Linked DNA regions of Homo sapiens. The protein of the gene in region 1 interacts with the protein of each later gene in a biochemical or structural test. Each region holds a gene or a part of one and is shown in the gene's direction. Other genes may lie near its edges. The genes, in order: PDE6D, ARL2 and ARL3.

The links.
Region 2: the proteins of PDE6D (region 1) and ARL2 are reported together in a solved structure, tested with the Homo sapiens proteins (2 studies listed by BioGRID and IntAct, with this or other methods).
Region 3: the proteins of PDE6D (region 1) and ARL3 interact in a biophysical measurement, tested with the Homo sapiens proteins (one study listed by IntAct).

Annotation. Positions count from the first base shown.
Region 1 is NC_000002.12:231,736,203-231,743,303, reverse strand, and holds part of PDE6D (retinal rod rhodopsin-sensitive cGMP 3',5'-cyclic phosphodiesterase subunit delta), read left to right. Parts: intron 1-2,197; exon of another isoform or gene 2,198-2,347; coding exon of another isoform or gene 2,348-2,425; intron 2,426-4,101; coding exon of another isoform or gene 4,102-4,115; coding exon 4,116-4,204; intron 4,205-5,165; coding exon 5,166-5,291; intron 5,292-6,011; coding exon 6,012-6,117; intron 6,118-7,101. UniProt on the Homo sapiens protein: Promotes the release of prenylated target proteins from cellular membranes. Modulates the activity of prenylated or palmitoylated Ras family members by regulating their subcellular location.
Region 2 is NC_000011.10:65,009,509-65,017,200, forward strand, and holds the start of ARL2 (ADP-ribosylation factor-like protein 2), read left to right. Parts: upstream 1-4,651; 5' UTR 4,652-4,699; coding exon 4,700-4,764; intron 4,765-7,692. UniProt on the Homo sapiens protein: Small GTP-binding protein which cycles between an inactive GDP-bound and an active GTP-bound form, and the rate of cycling is regulated by guanine nucleotide exchange factors (GEF) and GTPase-activating proteins (GAP).
Region 3 is NC_000010.11:102,711,333-102,719,270, reverse strand, and holds the start of ARL3 (ADP-ribosylation factor-like protein 3), read left to right. Parts: upstream 1-4,873; 5' UTR 4,874-4,995; coding exon 4,996-4,998; intron 4,999-5,109; exon of another isoform or gene 5,110-5,473; coding exon of another isoform or gene 5,474-5,476; intron 5,477-7,938. UniProt on the Homo sapiens protein: Small GTP-binding protein which cycles between an inactive GDP-bound and an active GTP-bound form, and the rate of cycling is regulated by guanine nucleotide exchange factors (GEF) and GTPase-activating proteins (GAP).

The DNA of each region.
Region 1 (7,101 bases):
TACAGGCGCACACCACCACGCCCAGCTAATTCTTGTATTTTTAGTAGAAACGGGGTTTCACCATGTTGGCCAAGATGGTCTTGATCTCTTGACCTCGTGATCCGCCCGCCTCGGCCTCCAAAAGTGCTGCAATTACAGGCGTGAGCCACGACGCCCAGCCGAGACTTTTCTCGTATAGCAGCAAAACCTAGACAGAATCTCTCCAGAGGGTAAAATATAGTGTTATTACACACATGATGATTCCAGTCAGCTGTGTTGTTTAGGGTTCTTCACTGCAAGCTATTCAAACAATGGGAAAGGGTATCTGAGGCTTTTGGAGCTGCCTGGAAGTTGAAGGACAGGGTCTGTAGCAAAGACCACACAGTAGGAAAGGGCAGGTTGGCATGCCCCTGCTGCCCCCACCCTGAAGAACTTCCAACTCCCTCGAAAGTCCTGTAGCTTCAGGACCCCAGAACTGGGTAGCACGTGTCCAAGGCTAGGCCTTCTTGTGCTCACCCCTGATTATGCCAGGGCTGGGAGAAAAGGATCTGGCCTTTCTAGCTGCTGTAGTGCAAAGCAGTCACTGCCTTCCACAAGGTAGAGACTCTCTTCTTTGGGAAGAGAGTCTGATCACAAGATAGCAAAAAAAGAAAACCAAAAAAAAGACACATGTAAACTATATCTATATTATACATATATTTATCTGCAGCTCAGTCTCTTCGCAAATATTAACGATCTTTTGCAGACAGCCTCTGTGCTTGCATAATGTTAATTTTCTTTTCCTTTAATGGTTTGTCAATTGTTTTTTAAAACAAAACAAAAAAAACCTTAGCACTCTCTTCTTAAAGTTAGTCTTTATTTTTATTAAGTTGTATGTGTTCATCATTTAAAGAATCATAGTCAGCCGGGCAAGGTGGCTCACACCTGTAATCGCAGCACTTTGGGAGGCCAAGGCAAGCGGATCACCTGAGGTCGGGAGTTTGAGACCAGCCTGAACAACATGGAGAAACCCCATCTCCAGTTAAAAATACAAAAATTAGCCGGGCATGGTGGTGCATGCCTGTAATCCCAGCTACTCAGGAGGCTGAGGCAGGAGAATTGCTTGAACCCAGGAGGTGGAGATTGCAGTGAGCCAAGATCATGCCATTGCACTCCAGCCTGGGCAACAAGAGCGAAACCATCTCAAAAAAAAAACAAAAAACACAGTCTATCTAGTTTCTAATGAAGAGCACCACTCCCTGTCCCCCTATTTTCTACTCCCCAGAGAAAACTATTTTCAATCCTTTTTAGCTTATTTATTTGGTATTCATCTTGGTATTTCTAAAAAGCAAAATGTGGCTATGTCGTAATGTTTCCATTTTAGCATTATTTATCCACTTTCCACTACGGAAAATGACAGTTTTGTTGTTTCTCAACATTTCGTGCCTGACTATCCAGATATACATACTCTTGTTCCCCCATCCTCCCAGGTAAATTATATTGGGTGTTAGCATGTGCTTTCATTGTTATGACCATATCAGCACTACTTGCAATGAAGCCATGAGTTATACTATGACTACTTTTTTCTTCCAGTACTACCTTTAATTTTTCTTGATGTCAGTACTTGGATTTTTGTCATTTGCTTAGATTTTCTGTGCTTCTCATGAATTTGACCCCAAAATCTCCCTCTAATTGTATAAATCTCCTTTCCATATAAACACACTAGGTATTCTATGAATTTTATCTTTTTAAAAGAAAATCTCTTCCTGAGCTTTGTGACCTGCTCTAGCCTGGACCCTGGACTAGTCACTCTCCAGACCTGTTAAAGAGCTATTGTCTTGGGATCTTCCTTCACTGTCACTCAGGGGACTCCCTTCAGCTGTTTCTTGCTTGCTATATCCCATGTCATCCCCTTTCTTGGTTTTCTCTGTCATTTTGATGAAGCCATATTTTCCTTAGTTTCTTAAGAAAGCAAATATTTTTTAGTTTGTTTCAGGAATTGTTTCCCTGAAAATTTTAAAGGCCCTGCTAAGTTGTCTCCTACCCTCCAGGGTTCCTTTTGAATTTGATTTATTCTGATTTTTTTTCCTATTCTGATTTGACCCTTTGTATAATGACTTGTTTAACCTCTGGAAGCTTTTCGCTTTTCTTTATCTTTGATATTCTGTAAATGCACTAATGATGTGACTTGGGCATTTGCTACACCCTTTTTTTTTTTTTTTTTTTTTTTTTGAGACAGGGTTTCGCTCTTGTTGAGGCTGGAGTGCAATGGCGCAATCTCCCGGGTTCAAGTGATTCTCCTGCCTCAGCCTCCTGAGTAGCTGGGATTACAGGCAGGCACCACCACGTCTGGCTAATTTTGTGTTTTCGGTAGAGATGGGGTTTCTCCATGTTGGTCAGGCTGGTCTCGAACTCCCGACTTCAGGTGATCCGCCCGCCTCAGCCTCCCAAAGTGCTGGGATTACAGGTGAGCCATCGCTCCTGGCCTAGACACTTTCCATCTACGAAATTTTCTTGAATTAATTTATTGATGCCATCCTCCCCTCTGTTCTCTCTGTTCTACCTTTCTAGAACTTCTATTAGTTAGACACTAGAACTCTTGGACTATTCTTGGACTATAAGTTTTTGTGCCTTTACTCTCCTTTTTTTTTTTTTTTTTTTTTTTGAGACAGGGTCTCCCTCTGTCGCCCAGGCTGGAGTGCAGTCGCATGATCTCGGCTCACTGCAGCATTGATTTTGTGGACTCAGGCAATCCTCTCACCTCAGCCTCCAGAGTAGCTGGGACCACAGGCATGCACCACCATGACTTGTTAATTTTGTATTTTTGTAGAGATGGGGTTTCACCATGTTTCCCAGGCTAATCTCAAACTCCTGAGCTCAAGGAATCCACCCACCTCAGCCTCCCAAAGTGCTGGAATTACAGGTGTGAGCCACCACACTCAGCCTGCTCTCCTGTTTTCTATCCTTGCCTTTTTCGTTCTGAAAGCTTTCTTCAATTTTGTCTTTGTGTTGAGTTGTTTGGTTCTGCTATCAAAATATATGTGTTTCTAGAGTTCTTTTTTGTTCTCTGAATATTCTTTTTTAAATTGGTATTATTGACTCATTTAATGTATGAAACAATACAGAAACTAGAAAATATAAATACTTATGTTAGAAGGCATTTTCTGACAGAGAACATCAGTTAACCAGCTTCATAAGTTGTAACCTCAAACCAGAGAAATTCACCTAAAATATACAGAATTTTATTATATTAATTTTTAGTGTCTGTAAAGGTTATGTCTTATCTCTCTTTTTTAATGCTCCTTTTTAAAACTTATGTCTTTATCTGTAAGCCTCTTTATTCTTCTAAGTTACTTTTTTCTTTTAGTTTGTTTTGGTCTGTCTTTCATAATAAATGCTTTCTTAAATTTCTGTTGATACTTGGCTATCTTCTCATATTTAAAAACAGGGCACTCAGAGGCTGAGGCAGACAGATCACTTGAGGTCAGGAGTTCGAGACCAGCCTGGCCAACATGGTGAAACCCCATCTCTATTAAAAATACAAAAATAAGCTGGGCTTGGTGACGTGCTCCTATAATTCCAGCTACTCAGGAGGCTGAGGCACAAGAATTGCTTGAACCAAGGAGATGAAGGTTGTAGTGAGCCGAGATTGTGCCACTGCATTCCAGCCTGTGTGACAGAGTGAGACTCTGTTTCAAAAAAAAAAAACAGAGGGGGCCACTACAAAGCAATTTGAGAGTTCTGTGCTTGTGGGTGAAGTTTATGGACTGTGGCATTCACTATAGAGTGATCTTCATGAGTTGTTTCCTTGGGGTACATCTGATATTTGTTTCTTTAGGTATTTTATCTTGGTTGGTCAGATCCTGTTGGTAAATTTTAAATTTTGCACTATTCGTTTTCTGTCCCTTTCTTGCAGTCTCTAGGTGTGTGCAGTCTTAGGATTCTCATAGATAAAAGTAACTTCTCTAGGTTTCTGCTTCTTCCTTTAGATGTCTTTTTGACTCTCCTCACATTCTTATGTGCTTCCATGGCAATGAGCAGTTTGACAAACTTTTTAAAAAGTAAACAAGAGTTGGTGGGAGTAAACATGAGACACCTAGAATACAAAGTGGGAGTCACTTTCAGTGCCTTATTTTTCCTTAGTCATATTTGATCAGAAATTGGATGAACCTTCGGGATGCTGAGACAGGGAAGATACTCTGGCAAGGAACAGAAGACCTGTCTGTCCCTGGTGTGGAGCATGAAGGTACTTTCCAACCCTTTATCTACACAGGGCTGTGACCAATGCCAGACTAGCACCTGAGCATAAGAGAGCTAAGTTAACACATACCTAATAGGCGGGTGAGCCCCTGAAGACACAGCATGTTAATCCATGTGTTGTTGACAGTTTCAGTTACTTTCTTTTTTTTTTTTTTTTTTTTTTTTTGAGACACAGTCTTGCTCTATCACCCAGGCTGGATGGAATGCAGTGGTGTGATCTTGGCTCACTGCAACCTCTGCTTCCCAGGTTCCAGCGATTTTCATGCCTCAGCCTCCCGAGTAGCTGGGACTACAGGCGTGCGCCACCACATCTGGCTAATTTTTGTATTTTGAGTAGAGATGGGGTTTCACCATGTTGGCCATCCTGGTCTCGAACTCCGGACATCAAGTGATCTGCCCGCCTCAGCCTCCCAAAGTGCTGGGATTACAGGTGTGAGCCACCACGCCCAGCCAGTTACTTTCTTAACAGTTCTTTCTCTCACTTCCCAAAACCCATTTTGTGCTGATATTTTACCATTAGAACATACCCAAAGATAGAAACTAAGATCTCAACTTTTTCTCCAAAAGAAAATTTGCATTTTTATCTCCCTGAAGTAAAGAAGAAGGAAGGGGTTAAAATCACCAGAACAGAGTAGAGAGAAGGTACCCATGCAGCCCCCTTCCTGATGAGAGTAGTTAGATGAGGCCCTTAGATGCACAAAACCTGGTGTTCCTTGAAGATCTAATATCTTTCAGATACGGGTGACCAATTAGAGACCTCTGCTTTCAGCCACACAAAGTGTAATGCACTTACCAAGGCATTATCCAAAATGTAAGAAAGTGTTCTCTAAATCAGCTGTAAGAAAGTGTTCTCTAAATCAGCTGTAAGAAGCTCCCAGAAATTTGAAGCATCATAGTCCTGTGGTTTTCATTTAGAAAGGCTTCAACATTTGTTTTTCTCTTACCAGCCCGTGTTCCCAAGAAAATCCTCAAGTGCAAGGCAGTGTCTCGAGAACTTAATTTTTCTTCGACAGAACAAATGGAAAAATTCCGCCTGGAACAAAAAGTTTACTTCAAAGGGCAATGCCTAGAAGGTATTCTGCTGCCTACATGCCTGAAATCAGGGCTTAGGGCGACCAGGACAAAAGGCAACAATACCCAGTGAACTAAAGCAGTGCTTTGATAACATTCCTTTTACAACTCAGTTTGTGGTAGGATTCCTACACTCTGCAAGACTGTGAATCCCCAGTGAAACAAACCAAAACAAAGCTAGCCACTACAAGGGGCTTTGAGGTCTCTGACACTGGGAGCGTGGATGGTGGTGCCTGGTTTAGGCACTGACGTTGTATTGTGATATGATCATGGAGGAAGCTGCTATGAGCAGGGCCTAGTACAGTGCTCTACATACAGTATCATACAGATTTGACTGGCAAGGCCACTCTGCATTGAATTCTCACCATGCAGTGTAAAGGGCACATAAGCCCCTTCAAGCTAATTCCAAGTGAATTTAACTATGTATCTATATATAGTTCACATCTAGCCTACCTCTAAGAAAATGCTGCTTATATTGTGTCCTGCTCGCTGGTCCTAGTCCTTTAGACCTCAAAGCATGAGAAGCAAGCCTTTGGTGTGGTTCAGAGGACAACCTGAGCAGGCTTCCCTGTCTTTTTTACGCCCCTGGTCTGAGAGGTTGCTGATAGCTTCCTTTGGTGGTTCTCAGGGTAGGAAGAGGCTCACTCTAGAGAGGGAGACAAAGAGCCCTTAAACTTTATACTGGGGCACCTGCTCACCCCGGCTTTTCCTTCTTCCTTCAGAATGGTTCTTCGAGTTTGGCTTTGTGATCCCTAACTCCACAAATACCTGGCAGTCCTTGATAGAGGCAGCACCCGAGTCCCAGATGATGCCAGCAAGCGTCTTAACGTGAGTGAGCAGGTCTCAGGAAATTATGAAGTGTGTCTAGAAACAGGCATTCCAGGCAGGTGGGACTCCTGGTGCCATTCAGTGGGCAGAGAGCTCGGTTGAGAAATAGAGTAAAAGAGTATCCAAGGGTATCTAGGTTTCCAGGTTCCTGACCTTTTTCATATGAAAAAGACAGTATGATAGAGTAGAAAGAATAAAAAACTAAAAATAAAAATAAAACTTTAGATTAAACCAGATTTAAATTCCTGATTCACCCTGACTACCTGTGTCATCTTGGGCACTAATATACTTTATCTCTCTGAGCCTTAGTCTTTCATCTCTAAACACAGAAATTAATTCTGTCTTACAGAGGTGTAATGAAGATAAAATGTGATGACATGGAAGGAGACTGGCATTTAATATATATACCGAATCTATGTTAATTTGCTCCCATTCCTGACTACCGTACTTCCGGTATCTCTGTATTTTGTTTAGATCACCTTTAACAGAATCTGGCAAAGTCCTATTAATAATTCTGTTTTCGAGGATACTACTTGGTTACAGTTTTTTGGAGAATGGCTTACCATATTAATAGCTTTGGTTCCTGTTCCAAGAACAATTTGTTTGTGCTTTTTCCAAAAACACTGTCAATAACTTCCTACCTCCCATTGTCTGTGGGAAAGATGTTAGTCTCTCAAATGTTATAGTAATAGTACCTTCTAAAGAGTTAGCTGGGCGTAATGGCACACACCTGTAATCCCAGCTACTCAAGAAGCTGAGATAGGAGAATTGCTTGAACCCAGGAGGTGGAGGTTACAATGAGCCAAGATCATGTCACTGCATTCCAGCCTGGGTAGCAGACCAAGACTCTATTTCAAAAAAAAAAGAGTTAGTCCCACAGATAATTGTGTAATATTGGATCATCTCTTTCAACAGTTCCTTTATGAAAGCCATATTGAATTTGTTAAAAATTGAGGTTATTGACTTTAAGGTTTTTTGTTTTTG
Region 2 (7,692 bases), on another chromosome or scaffold:
TCAAGGCTGCAGTGAGCCGTGATTGTGCCACTTCACTTCAGCCTGGGTGATAGAGTGAGAACCTGTCTCAAAAATAATAATAATAATAATAATAATAATAATAATAATGTGAGACCCTGTCTTAAAAATAATAATAATGCCAAATTTTTCTTTCTAGACGTTGGGTAAACATGCCTTGTTAAAAGGCTGTAGATCTCTATCCTCAAGTTACAAGCCACTTACTCGGCCCTAAGAAGTTTCCCCTTCAAAAGCAGGTTTCACAGATGTCACGATTTGGGTATTTTAATTTCACGATTCTTTCTTGTGAAAAAAAAATATATATATATATTCATATTCACAATTATATATAACTACAGCTCTATACATCTTCTTTCCTAGTTTTCTTCCAAAGGTATTTCCCAAAGATTTTATTTAAGAGTGCTCTTCTGCTCCTCTGCTTGAAAGTAAAAAAAAAAGAAAGAAAAAAAGCCAGGTGCATTGGCTCTTGCCTGTAATCTCAGCACTTTGGGAGGCCGAGGTGGATGACTTGAGGTCAGGAGTTTGAGACCAGCCTGACAAACATGGTGAAACCCCGTCTCTACTAAAAATACACAATTAGCCAGGTGTGGTGGTGCACACCTGTAATCCCAGTTACTTGGGAGGCTGAGGCAGGAGAATCGCTTGAACCTGGGAGATGGAGGTTGCAGTGAGCCGAGATTTTGCCATTGCACTCCAACCTGGGCAACAAGAGCAAAACTTCGTCTCAAAAAAAAAAAAAAGAAAAAAAAAGAGCTCTCCTCCTTTCCATGAGGCAAATGAAAACACAGCTCGTAATGAGGCCCCTTACTTGTCTTTAAATGCCTCTCCACCCAATTTCTAGCTACAGTCAGTTCTTCAAAAGTTAAACACAGGCCAAGTGGGGTGGCTCATGCCTGTAATCCCAGCACTTTGGAAGTCTGAGGTGAGAGGATCACCTAAGCACAGGAGTTCAAGACCAGCCCGGGTAACACAGCGAGACCCTCGTCTCTACAAAAAATTTAAAAAATTAGCCGGGCTTGATGGCATGCACCTGTAGTCCCAGCTACTCAGGAGACTGACGTGGGAGGACTGCTTGAGGCTGCAGTGAGCCATGATTGTGCCACTGCACTCCAGCCTGGGTGACAGAGTGAGACCCTGTCTCTAAAATATGTTTAAAAAGTTAAACATAGTTGGCCGGGCGCGGTGGCTCACGCCTGTAATCCCAGCACTTTGGGAGTCCAAGGCTGGCGGATCACGAGGTCAGGAGATCGAGACCATCCTGGCTAACGCGGTGAAACCCCGTCTCTACTAAAAATACAAAAACTTAGCCAGGCATAGTGGCGGGCATCTTTAGTCCCAGCTACTCGGGAGGCTGAGGCAGGAGAATGGTGTGAACCCGGGAGGCGGAGCTTGCAGTGAGCTGAGATTGCGCCACTGCACCCCAGCCTGGGCGACAGAGCAAGACTCTGTCTCAAAAAAAAAAAAAAAAAAGCTAAACATAGTTACTTCCTGAACTCCCCCTTTTTCACAGAGCTTGGATGTTGTTTATTTTTATTTTTTTAATTTATATTCACTGAAATTCTACCATGTGGCCCCTGGGAACAACAGCATGGACAGGCAAGACTTTAAGCCAGACATTTGAACAAGTTCTTTCAATGCTACTGGTAGGAAATAAAACAATCCGAGGCTGGGTGCGGTGGCTCACACCTGTAATCCCAGCCCTTTGGGAGGCTGAGGAAGGCAAATCTCTTGAGGCCAGGAGTTTGTGACCAGCTGGCCAACATGGTGAAACCCTGTCTTTACTGAAAATATAAAAATTAGCCGCGCATGGTGGCTCATGCCTGTAATCCCAGCTACTCAGGAGGCTGAGGCAGGAGAATAGCTTGAACCTGGGAGGCAGAGGTTGCAGTGAGCCAGGATTGTGCCACTGCACTCCATCCTGGGTGACAGAGCCAGACTCTGTCTCAAAGAAAAAAAGAAAATATAGACACACCCAAGGTAATAATTTTATGTTCTCCCAAACTTCATTGCCCTGATTTTCAAACTTTTGTGACTGTGATTCACAGTGAGAAGTACACATATCTGTATAAATATCTAAAACAAATGTTTCACCAAACGCTACTTAGCTTTACTACGTGGGTAAAGGTAGTAATGTTTTCAGTTCTGTTCATTCTATTTCATTTTTGTTAATGCTACTAGGTTGAACCATTTGAAATACATCTGTGTATCAAAACTGTCAAATATGGGCAATTTCATACAGTTCAACCTATTTGTGACACTAATTTTACAATCCACTTCCTTAATGGAATGCATCTCATAGATTAAAAAACATTGCTAAGTGGGCATATTTCCAGTTAATATTATTTTTAAAACTAAAAGAGGACTGAATTTTTGTTTTTGTTTTTCATTTAATATGGCGCGGACATCTTTCCACACTGGTATCTTACAGCTCCACCTCACTGTTTTCTGTTTCTTTGAGACGGTCTAACTCTGTCATGAAAGCTAGAGTGCAGTGGCATGATCACGGCTCACTGCAGCCTTATCCTCCCTGGTTCCCACCTTGGCCTCCTAGGTAGCTGGAACTACCGATGTGCACCACTACACCTAATTTTTTTTTTTTTTTTTGAGACAGACAATTTCGCCCAGGCTGGAGTGCAGTGGCACAATTTCAGCTCACTGCAACCTTCGCCTCCTGGGTTGAAGTGAGCATGTCTGGCTAATTTTTGTATTTTTTATAGAGATGGGAGTCTCCCTAAGTTGGCCAGGCTGGTCTTGAACTCCTGGGCTCAAGCAATCCACTCACCTCTGCCTTCCAAAGTGCTGGGATTAGACATGAGCCACTGCGCCTGGCCCACTTCACTGTTTTAAGGGCTTCATGAATTCACATGCACCTACCCCGGCTCAGGTAACCTGCCCTCACTGGAGGCACTTAGGTTTTTTCCAATTTCTTGCTGTTCCAAACCATGCCACAGTGAACTTCGTTGTTCCTGTGCAGTGCCAGAATGTCTGTGGTGCAGGCTCCTAGAAGCAGGATGGCAGGCTCCTACCTCTAGACATTTCTTTTTTTTTTTTTTTTTTTTTTTTGAGACGGAGTCTCACTCTGTCACCCAGTCTGGAGTGCAGTGGCACAATCTCGGCTCACTGCAACCTCCGTCTCCTGGGTTCAAGCAATTCTCTGCCTCAGCCTCCCGAATAGCTGGGATTACAGGTGCCGCCACCACGCCCAGCTAATTTTTTGTATTCTTAGTAGAGACGGGGTTTCACCATGTTGGCCAGGCTGGTCTTGAACTCCTGACCTCGTGATCCACCTGCCTCGGCCTCCCAAAGTGCTGGGTTTACAGGCGTGAGCCATGGCGCCCGGCCAGCATTTCCCATTTTGATCTTAGCTGCATTTCGAAGCCTCTGGGTAGGCGATATGCTCACTTTCTTCCTTGTGTGTGTGTGATGGAGGGTAAATGGTGCTGACCGAAGGGTCCCACTCAGGCAGCCTATCTGTTCAGCCCTCCTCTGACCACAAGCCCCTTTCTGCAAGATGGGAAGCTCCAGCTTCTTCCAGACCTCTCTCTAGGCAAACTTCATGGAGGCATGAAGACATTGTGCTTTACCATTTACTAGACCTGAGTTTGAATCTCACCCATGCTCCTTAAACACTCTGGATTCCATTATCATAGCTACGAAAAGAATATAAACCTCTCAGGGTTGCAGGGAGGATGAAGCTGAACACGTGAAGTGCGTTGCAAACAGTTACACAGGAGTTAGCTATTGTCCTCAGCTGGTGCTGACAGCTCTTTCCCAAGCATGAGAGAGGCTCTTCCGTGCTGCCTATCCACACTTACCTGCAGCAATAAGGCTGTCTCCTGAGTTTACAAAAGGGCTTGGTCCTTGACCTATTTCCTCACTTCTTCTGGACTTCTTGAGCGCTAAAGTAAAGAATGAAACTCTTGGACAAAGCCATTCATTCAACAACAAATATTTATTGAGCACCTACTACATGCCAGCCACTGTGCTAAGCACCATCTGGGCCTCAGTTTTTCCATCTGCAAAAGTAGGAACTGTGCTTCTGAACAGGGAAACGCTGGGCCTCTGGGTGGGGGCAGCCTTTGGGGCGGGACTGCAATTCCGTCATTGGAACCCAGGGACGCCCCGCATGTTTCCGAACGGCCTCCAGGGGGCACCGCCGCCCTGAACTGAGAGCCACCGGAGCCGGGTAGGGGGAGGCCCAACTTTCCGCTCTGTCAGAGGATGATGCCGAGGGCCCAGATGAGCAGGATTTGGACTGTGTTGCTGGGAACGGGGGCCTACACTGGCCCCAGGATGAGTTCGTCCGTACCTGGGGGCCCTGGGTTCTGACTCTCAGGTCAGACGCAGCCAAGATGCAACTCAGGAACTTCAAGGTTTCCGCTCCGGCCAAGAGCCCCAGTCCGGCAGGGGAAAGGGTGGGGGAGTCGCCCTTGCTCCCCCAGCCTCAGCCCTCGGGAGGCGCAGCGTCAGGGCGGGCGGCAGCACAGAAACCCCCCGCGCCGCTAGAGGGACCCTCGCAGCAGCTGCGCGGGCGACCTCGCGGTCACGTGCGGCAAGGGCGGGACCAAACGAGCGTCCGGCCAATCGACTATGCCGTCGGCGAGCGTGATAGCCAACAGGAACCGGGAGCGGGGTCCCGGGACTGGGAAGAAACGGCGGCCGGGAGGGGGCTCCGGGGACCATGGGGCTCCTGACCATTCTGAAGAAGATGAAGCAGAAAGAGCGGGAGCTGCGACTGCTCATGCTGTATCCTACCGGACGCCGGAACCGCGAGGGTGGCGGGGTCCAGCCGGGCAGGCGGTGCCGGGCGCCCCCTGTCGGGAGCGGAACGCGGCGGCCGGCGCGTCCCAACTGCCCCTGGCGTCACCACGCGGGCCCCATCAATCGCCCCGTCGGGCCGGGAGGAGCCGCACCCCAGGACTGGGGCAGGGGCCAGCTCCGAGGGCCGCAGAAGCGGTCCTGCAGGCGCAGCGGCGGGGCTAGGCGGCCCGAGTGTCAGGGGTGGTGGGTCCCGGAGATAACTCGGACGCCACCACCCGGCGGCCTGGCCCAAGCGTGGGGCCGCTGCCCTCCCGGCTCTGATCTCCTCCCCCGGGCCCGAGGGTTCCAGGCCCCGGCCCCGCCCTCGAGCTCCGAATCCCGGGGGCGTGCGGGGTGGCGGGTGGCGCGTGTGGGCTCCGCGGATCCTTTCGAGCGTGGATCCAACAGTCCGTCTCTTTGGTGTTACGCGGCCCGTGGTTGTCCCTGCGGCTGAGGATGTGTGTGTGTGGGCCCGAGTGTCCCGTGCGCCCTGTGCGCCTTCTGAGTCCAGTTAGGCGCCCGCACCTGTTCCCCCAGCTCTGTGCCAGGCTCCGCGGGGGAATGGCTGGGGAGATAAGACGCTTACGTGCACATATAACTTAATAATCACATCATGACTGTTTTGTTTTTTGAGACAGGGTCTTGCTCTGTTGCCCTGGCTGGAGTGCAGTGGCACAATCAAGGCTCACCGCAGCCTCCAGCTTCTAGGCTTAAGTGATCCTCCTGCCTCAGCCTCCCAAAACTCTGGGAATATAGGCATGAGCCACGGAGTCCGGCCCATGTCTGTTTTATTTTGTTTTGTTTGAGACGGAGTTTCGCTCTTGTTGCCCAGGCTGGAGTGCAGTGGCACAATCTCAGCTCGCTGCAACCTCCGCCCCCCGAGTTCAAGCAATTCTCCTGCCTCAGCCTCCCAAGTAGCTGGGATTACAGGTGCCCGCCACCACGCCCGGCTATTTTTTTAAATATTGTTAGTAGAGACGGGGTTTCACCTTGTTGGTCAGGCTGTTCTCGAATTCCTGACCTCAAGTGATCCACCCGCCTTGGCCTCCCAAACTGTTGGGATTATGGGCGTGAGCCACTGCGCCGGGCCGCATGTCTGCTTTAAAGAGCTCTAAGAAAAGCATACAGTTCACTCATTTGATAAATATTGAGTGCCTAATATGTGCTAGACACTGTCCTAGTGCCCAGGGTAATAAAACTAAAAAATCTTACCTTCATGGAAATTCTGTAATGCGTGTGTGTGTGTGTGGCGGGGGGGTTGCCCGCGGGTAGAAAGATGATAACACAGGAAGTAAGTAAAATATGTAATAGAGGCTGGGTGCGGTGGCACACACCTGTAACCCTAGCACTTTGGGAGGCTGAGGTGGGAGGTTCGCTTGAGCCCAGGTGTTTGAGACCAGCCTGGGCAACATAGTGAGACTCTGTCTCTATTTATACATATATATATTCTCCATACATACTATATATATATGGGCCATGCTTTGGACCATGCTTCTGGGGAACAGGGCCTTATACTGCTCCAGGATGAACTCCCACTACGTATATAGGTATGGAGAATAATGCAATTTAGGGTGGTCAAAGAAGGCCACTGTATGATGGCAGGGCGCAGTGGCTCATGCCTGTAATCCCAGCACTTTGAAAGGCCGGGGCGGATGGATCGCCTGATGTCAGGAGTTTTGAGACCAGTCTGGCCAACATGGTGAAATCCCGTCTCTACTGAAAATACAAAAATTAGCTGGATGTGGTGGTGGACACCTTTAATCCCAGCTACCTGGGAGGCTGAGGCAAGAGAATTGCCAGAACCCGGGAGGCGGAGACTGCAGTGAGCTGAGATCACGCCATTGCAGTCCAGCCTGGGTGACAAGAGCGAAACTCTGTTAAAAAAAAAAAAAATGACAATTGAGTACATGAGGGAGGCGAGGGTTGAACCATATAGCAATTCGGGGGGGGGGGAAACTTTAAAGCAAAGGGAACAGCAAGTCAGAGGCCCTGGGAGGACTAACTGGCGTGTTCAGAGGACTGGTGAGGAGGGCAGTATGGCTGGAGTGGGGAGGAGGAGCGTTGACTGGGAACCCCCTCACCTAGGGCCTTTTGGTTTTTGGTTTTCCCTTTCAGTGAGAAGTGCAGTGGAGAGAAGGAATCGCAGACCAGTTAGGCCACTGCAGTGACGCAGGCGAGATAGGATGGTGGCTTGGACCAGGATGGAAGTAGTGAGGTCATGGAAGTTTCTGGCCTGAGCAATTAGAAGGGTGAGGAACCATTTGCTGAGATGGAGAGGACTGGGGGAGGAGCAGGTTCAGGGTGGAGATGAGAACCCTGTGTGTGCCTGTGTGTGCCATGTGAGATGCCTCCGAGACAGCCCAGAAGTGTCAGGCAGGCAGCTGGATGTAGGCACTGAGGTCCAGTGTGTGGGAGGTGCACATTTGGGTGTTATCAGGATAGAGATGGTATTTGAAGCTGTGATCCTGGATGAGGTCACCCAGGGATGAGCGTGGCCAGAGAAGAGAACCCGGTTGTACCAGGATGAAGTCAGGTGAGGAGCAGAACCAGGTGAGGGTGTGTCCCAGTGCCAAGGGCAGCGCATGTGCTGGGGAGGAGGGTGAGCCACTCCATCAGGTGCTGAGTGGGGAACAGAAGATGACTGAGCGCTGTCCCAGCACTAGAGGGCCACAGGGAGGTCTTTGGGGACTGACCTTGGTAAGGACAGTTTTGGCCACAGCAGCAGCAAAAGCCTGATGGGAGTGTGTTCTTGAAAGAGCAAGAAGGCAGAAATGGGGGTGAGCACAAACAACTATTTTGAGATTTCCTGTAAAAGGAAAGATATAAATGAATAACTAGATGGGGCAGAGAGATCAAGGGCTTTGTTTGCTCTTT
Region 3 (7,938 bases), on another chromosome or scaffold:
CAGCCTGGGCAACAGAGTGAGACTCTGTCTCAAAAAAAAAGAAGCTGAGGCCGGGCACGGTGGCTCATGCCTGTAACCCCAGTGCTTTGGAAGGCTGAGGCGGGCGGATCACGAGGTCAGGAGTTTGAGACCAGCCTGGCTAACATGGTGAAACCCTGTCTCTACTAAAAATACAAAAAATTAGCCGGGCGTGGTGGCAGGCGCCTGTAATCCCAGCTACTTGGGAGGCTGAGGCAGGAGAATCACTTGAACCCGGGAGGTGAAGGTTGCAGCGAGCCGAGATGGCGCCACTGCACTCCATCTTGGCAACATAGCAAGACCCTGTCTCAAAAAAAAAAAAAAAAAAAAAAAAGAAGCCGAGAAAAGGAAGCCCCCAAAGATGGGAAGAACCACCAGAAAGAAGAGAGAAAGGAGGTGGAGACAGGCACAGGCCTGTAATCCCAGCACTTTGGGAGGCCAGGAGTTCAAGTTCAAGAAAGGAGGCAGAAGGGACAGTGTTGGGGAAGGAAGAGCAGTGGTCAATTTTTAGATTTTTCGTTAAGGCGGAAGAGACATCAGGAAGCTGATATGCTGGAGGTACGCCATTTCCTAAGAGGAAAGACCAGGAACAAGAGGAGAGGCTCAATATGGAGTATCCACAGCGCCCTGGCCTGGCCCCGATGCTTCTCTGAAGCGGCAATCTCCAGAGAAGTCAGAAGGCAGACAGAAAGAGTCCACTGCCAAAACAGACTTCCCCTCTCCCTGCCACCTGGCCTCCTGCAGGCTGCTTCAAAGACCAAAGGCATTTATCTCAGTCCCAGCTGAAGCAAGAGTGGGAGGAGGGGAAAGAGTTCACTTTCCCATGCTCTACATGAACCTAAAAGGAGTCAGCTTGGCTGGCTGAACACACGCTGCCTTGGCTTACAGAGCCCCAGGCTCATACATGCTGGAGACAGCCTGACTGAGCAAAATGCTATGCCTCCCCCTCAGCACACACATACACACAGAGCCAGACCTTCTCTGACATCTCTGTTCACCTTAACACAACATTGCAAAGTCCTCTGCTTCTCAGAATGGAGGGACTATCATCAAGGGGTAATCTAAACATTTGCTAATTATGCAAGAGCCTTTGCCTTCTTAATTGAAGTCAGGATAGAAACTGCAGAGTCCCTGTCTTAAATAAAACATAAAGCCAAAACAAAAACAAAACAAAAAAAACACTAAACGATCTGTCTGGAACATTTCCCCCCACACACCCACTGTCCCCCAATGGGCACTCTTCCCCGACTCCTTCAGGACAAACTCAAATCCTTCTGTGATATATACTCCTACAGCATCCTGTCCTTTGCAGCATGCTGGGCGTTTGTGATTGTCACCTTCTTGTCATTGACTGTGATTTGTGTAAAGTCTGCCTCCCCTGACAGACTGTAAGGCTCACAAGCATCGGGATCATGTCTGTGATGTTTACTGCTACATGTTTCACATGCCCTCGAAGAATATTTACTGCTTACCTGAAATGCATTCCAACTTCTTCTTGGGTCTCTTGGCATCAAGGATGTCACCTCTTTTAAGTCAAACTTAGAACCTGCCTAGGTTACAGAATTAAGAGCACGCTTTCTTTCATGAAGTTGCAAAACTGTCTACCTTGCCTGTACTAAGTCATACTGGTCTCTAAATTTTCTTCTACAGTTACTGTCCCTCCTCCCACACAAGCCACATCTAGTCTTCCCTAAAAAGGTCATCATCATGTCCAGGGTAGCCCCACTTCTGTATGGTCCCACTACTAGGAACAAAGTAGGAGTAAAAATCAGACCAGTGATTTAATGATATCTCCCTCCTAGGATTAGAGAATGTCACAGCTTGAGGCCGGGCGCAGTGGCTCACGCCTGTAATCCCAGCAATTTAGGAGGCCGAGGCGGACGGATCACGAGGTCAGATCGAGACCATCCTGGCTAACCCTGTGAAACTCTGTCTCTACTAAAAATACAAAAAATTAGCCAGGCGTGGTGGCACGCACCTGTAATCCTAGCTACTCAGGAAGCTGAGGAAGGAGGATCGCTTGAACCCGGGAGGCGGAGGTTGTAGTGAGCCAAGATCGCACCACTGCACTCCAGTCTGGGTGACAGAGCGAGACTCCGTCTCCACAAAAAAAAAAAAAAAAAAAAAAGAGAGAGAGAATGTCATAGCCTGAAGACATGTGATCTAAGATCTCAGTTTACAGAAGAGGAAACTGAAGCCTAGAAAGGTGCACATGGATTGGGCCACCACAGTGGGCATTTTTGATACACTTGGCCCTGCACTAAGCGCTTGCAGCAGATATAAACACGAACAATCAACAGATCCAGTCCTCAAAGATTGGACAACAGCTAAGGCCTTACTTCCCCAAGGTCCTCTATCCACTATAGCCTACTTGCCAACTCCGAGGCCTGGCACGGTGGCTCACACCTGTAATCCCAACACTTTGAGAGCCCAAAGCAGAGAGATCACCTGAGGTTGAGAGTTCAAGACCAGCCTGACCAACATGGAGAAACCCCCGTCTCTACTAAAAATAAAAAATTAGCCAGGCGTGGTGGTGCATACCTGTAATCCCAGCTACTTGGGAGGCTAAGGCAGGAGAATCGTTTGAACCCGAGAGGTGGAGGTTGTGATGAGCCGAGATCGCACCGTTGCACTCCAGCCTGGGCAATAAGAGTGAAACTCCATCTCAAAAAAAAAAAAAAAAAAAAAAAGGAAAGAAAGAGAGGGAAACAAAGAGAAAAAAAAAGTAATAGACTACTGCCACCTCTGACGTAATGCTCATCCTTCCCAGAAAGAGCAGATTTTCTCTGGCAAATGGTATCAGAGATCAGAAAACAAGCTTCCAAATTCCTTCTGAGGTATCCTCTTACAAGCAGAAGTGCACAAGATTACTGTTTGTAGCCCCAGGTAGGGAGAAAAACGAAACATCATCGCTGGTACTCACATCAGAGGAAGATCAAGGTAGCCAAAGACCCCAGAAGGTCAGACACAAAGACCACTGAGACAGGCAAGGATTAAGGTCAAGGCTGCCTAGAGCAAGCTGGAAAATGAGGGTAATAATTACAAGAGCAGGCCCAGGTATAGGCTTATGGGTACTCGTCTGACTCCAAGGCAAGTGGGCTGTTAGGCACCAGACAACTTAGAAAGAGCAACCTCCCTTGCCTTTTTCACAAAAGGGCCAACAGTCTGGAGATGAGTAGATTATAGGGGTTTGTGCTCCTGTATCACCTCCATTCATCACCTCCTTAGTCAAGGCTCTGAACTGCTTTTTCTCTCCAAGGATCTGAAGCAGGTATGCAAGCAGCAGATGTTGATTTTTGTTTTCATTTTTTTTTTTTTTTTTGAGGCAGGGTCTTGCTCTTTCACCCAGGCTGGAGTACAGTGATGTGATAATAGCTCCTGGGCTCAAGCAATCCTCCAGCCTCAACCTCCCGAGTAGCTAGGACTACAAGTGCGCCACGGAACCTGGCTAATTAAAAAAAATTTTTTTTTGTAGAGGCAGGGTCCTACTGTGTTGCCCGGGCTGGTCTCCAACTCCTGGGCTCAAGCCTTCCTCCCCTTCCACCTCTCAAAGTGCTGGGATTATAGGCATGAGCCACTGCGCCTGGCCGCAATTACCAATTTCTAGGGGTTGTGAAAATGAAATTTGGTATGAAATGTATTTCATTAGGAAGGATGTAATTTCCATACGGGCTGATTTTGTCCACTGCTGTGTCTCCAGCGTCTAGAACAGGGCCTAGCACGTTTGTGTAAACTCTTCTTATAGTCCTCTGCATCGGGAAAGGGATGGGAGGTAGCACTTCCCAACCCACCCCAGTGTCCCACTTGCTCTTCCTTGGCTAAAAATGCAGGCTCATTTTTGCCTCCTCCAGGACTACAGATGGTACGCGGTCCTGTCCAAAGCAGCTTAGCAAAACCGGCCAGAGGCTGGGCACAGTGGCTCACCACTTTGGAACACCTGTAGTCTCAGCACTTTGGGAGGCCTAGGCGGGCGGATGGCTTGACCCCAGGAGTTCGAGCCCAGCCTGGGCAACATGGCGAAACTCCGTCTCTACAAAAACAAAATACAAAAAATTATCCAGGCGTGGTGGCGCCCGCCTGCAATCCCAGCTACTCGAGAGTCTGAGGCGGGAGAATCGCTTAAGCCTGTGAGGCAAAGGCTGCAGTGAGCCGAGATCGCGCCACCGCACTCCGGCCCGGGCGACAGAGCGACACCCTGTGTCAAAACAAAAACCGGGCCGATCCCCAAAACGCCTTTCACCTGTGCTTTCAGCTCACCTCAGGGCTCAGGGCCAGCCCCCAGGCTGCTTCTTGCCCTCCGACAGACGGCCTCCCCCCATCGGTACTCCCCCATCCCGGACAGCTCGTAACGCCCCAGCCGCTCGGCCTGGCACTCCTAGGCAATGGGGGTCAGAGCAGAGGGGCCCATCTGCAGCCCCAGGGCGCACTTCGCGCCACGTGGCTTCTGCAGGTGGAAGTCCAGCCCGCGCTGCAGCCCCGCCTGGGCAGTCAGGACAGCAATCTCAGCACCCACCCGAGATGTGGGGATTGGAGGTAGACAGGGCGAGCGCCATTGTCCCAAGGCCCCTTACCTGGTCCCGGGACAAATGCCACCAGTTACAGCCCGCCTTGAAAACTGGCCCGGGTGAGAGGAGGACCTGGGCTGGGGAACTGCCCCCACGCCCGCCCCACGCCCCTCCTTTTCGACCAATCCCAGGCCGGGAGGCTCCCGCCAGCCACGTGGGCAGGCTTTCTCCACTCCCTGGTCCAGGCGAGCCGGCGGCGGCCTCTGCAGCTCCCGTAGCCCGCCCACTGCGTGGGCGGGCGCCTTAGCGCACTTGCGCACTCTGGGGAAAGCGGAGCTGCACCCCGCCCCGTATTGCTGCTCAGCTCCTCAGCTGTGCGTGCGAGGGACGTCGGGGGCGGCGCCGCAGCAGTTGCCCCTGGTAACGGGGGAGGCAGCAGGAGGAGGAGGAGGAGGAGGGACTCGGCGGGAGGATGGTGAGTGTGGGGGCCTGGGCCCCCTTGGAGCCGGCCGGTTATCCCCCTCCCGTCCCCAGGCCCAGGGCGGAGCACTGCGCTTAAAGCCAAGGAGGGAATGGGACGTCGCTCAGCCTGCTATCTGGGTTGTGGACTGATTTCGGGGGTCGGCGGGGAGACCCGAGGGTGGGCCCTGGAGGGAGGCCTGGGCCTGGAGAGGAAGGCGGGGCTTGCAGCGGGTCCGAGGCTTGGGGAAGGGGCTGGCAGAGTGCGCGGCTGGCCGGGTGCGGAGCCCGGGCTCCATCATTACTCTGGGGACAGGGGTGAGGGCGGATCCCAGGAACTGCGGAGAGCAGCTTTCGCTAGCAGGCTTAGACTTCCCGGGCAATCGGTCTCGCGGCTTTGCAGTAAAGTGGGGTTCGTCTGGAGCCCGGCCAGAAGCGGAGAGAAGGCCGGCCCCATTGGCTCTGAGGTCGCCCTGGCGGTAGCAGGGGAGATGGTAGCCTAGCTCTCCTCCTTCTCGCGCTGTGCGGGCCCCTGGGGGGTAGGGAAGTAAGTCCCACGACACAAAGGGGTGCCGCTTGGAAGGGATGCCTGGTGGATTTTACGCCGTCTTGGTGTCTGCGTGGCGGGTGCGCTTCCTCAGTCCCGAATTATTTAGTTATTTGCTGAGAGTTTTGCAGGATCTGATTGTTGGTGATGACCGATTTTTCATTCAATACATAATCCATGTTGATGAAGACATATTAGCTGCTCCGTCTCTAGAATTTCCTTCGAAACCTTTTGCAGTCTCCTCTTGCGTGTGACCATACCAGGACCAAAAGATCTTAATCCTAGCTTGAGTTCTCCAAACTGAAAAGAACGAGAAGTTAAAAATGGAGATCGAACTTCAATCCGGGGCAAGGCTTTTCTCTGTCAGTCCCAATTAAAGCTTTCCCAAATTCTAAATTATGGTTGTGACAGATCTGACCGTTGACACTCTGTTTCTTGTTAATGTCTGTACAGTTAGTTGGAGGGAGTTAAAATGGAATTGAGTAATTTTAGAGCTATCAAAGAAAAATTGATTTTGAACACTTAAAGCAGGTTAGTTGGCTGCAAAGAGCCTGTCATCAAACTTATAGTCACTGCTCCAACTCTCTTCCTAGTTCCTTTCTTGACTTTTAGAAATGTTGAGCCATTTCTGTTGATTTAAGAAGTAAAAAAAAAAACAAAAAAACTAGATGCCCAGGAAAAAAAAAAATAGATGTATGTTTGGTCAGATTATCCAGTGAGTAGATTTAGAAAGGAAAAAAAAAACTCAATTGATTTTACATTGTCAGATTGTTAAAGAAGTAGGGTTATTTGATCTGAAGTTGCCAATCACATTTCACACTTGCTACACTTGCAGTTTTTTTTTAACCTCAGGCTAAACAGATTTTTACAACTGTTTCTTTTTCTTAATCATTTATACGTGAGCTGTCCTTTTAAAGTTAAAGTTTTTCTCAACAAATGAGTACAAACATAAATATTTACCCAGAAAATAGCTAGAATTGGAATGAAAAGGGCATGCCGAACCAACAGAGATTGAGATTCATCATTATGGATGAGAAGTGCATGAGAGTTGGCTAACTTTTCCCAGTTTGTTGATCAATTAAGTGTACTGTGTAATCCATGATTGTTTAATTTATAATTACAGGCCACAGTAAATTAACCACTGCCCATGTTTCCAGGTGCAAATTGGCACAGTATACAACAAATTTACAGTGTATATACAACACTGTTGTATACAACTGTTGTGTTCAATGATGAAAACAGATTTTGTTTTTCTTTTTTCCTTTTTCCTAAGATGAACAATAAGAAATTAAGACAAATTATTCCGGATTCTTTATCTGGTTTCCCAAAAACATTTTTTTTCTATCTCCACAAGCGTGAGCTGTTCTTAAAACTTGAAGTGAAACACTGAATTTAGTCAGTCGTGTGACTTAAGTGTATCCCATCTGGTATCCCATGAGCCCCCATGGTTAACTGTACAACTGAAGCGTGAACCCCAAGGTTTTTTTGGTTTTTGTTTTAAACTTCAGCTGTGACAAATACATATTTTTTTTCAAATTTGGGTAACTGTGGCAAAAACCCAAATATGGGTTTCTCTGAACATTTAGAGTCAGCTATTTTACCCCTGCTTTACAGTGCCAGGTTCTTGATGAATTACTAAAATACTAAAATGACAGTAATTTTAGCACGTAACTAACCACTTATATTTAACATATGATTCCTTCATTCAGTAATTATTTATGGAGCACTTTCTACATATATGGAGCTTGTGGTCGTTCTCAAGCATGTTCAACATTTGAAGATTGTTCCCAACAGTTACTTATGTTTTCTGGTTAGAAAATGGCCCGTGAAAAATTATTTTAAAAAAATAAACAAAACACGAGGGTAGTCTTTTCAGTGGCTGTTATGTGTCATGCTTTACATACATGACCTCATTTCATCCTCATAGCATCATCTCTTGAGATGTAAGTATTGTTCCTGTTTTCTTCTTTTTTTTTTCTTTTTTTGAGACGGAGTCTTGCTCTGTCACCCAGACTGGAGTGCAGTGGCGCGATCTCCGTTCACTGCAAGCTCCGCCTCCCGGGTTCACGCCATTCTCCTGCCTTAGCCTCCGCAGCAGATGGGACTATGGGCGCCCGCCACCACGCCCGGCTAATTTTGTGTGTGTGTGTTTTTAGTAGAGACGGGGTTTCACCATGTTAGCCAGGATGGTCTGTATCTCCTGACCTCGTGATCCGCCCGCCTCGGCCTCCCAAAGTGCCGGGATTACAGGCGTGAGCCACCGCGCCCGGCCTGTTCCTATTTTCTAGCTGAAACTGTGTGCAGTGTTATGTATATACATATATATATATAAAAACACACACACACATACATATATATACATATATATATACAGATACATATACATACATATATATATATATATACACA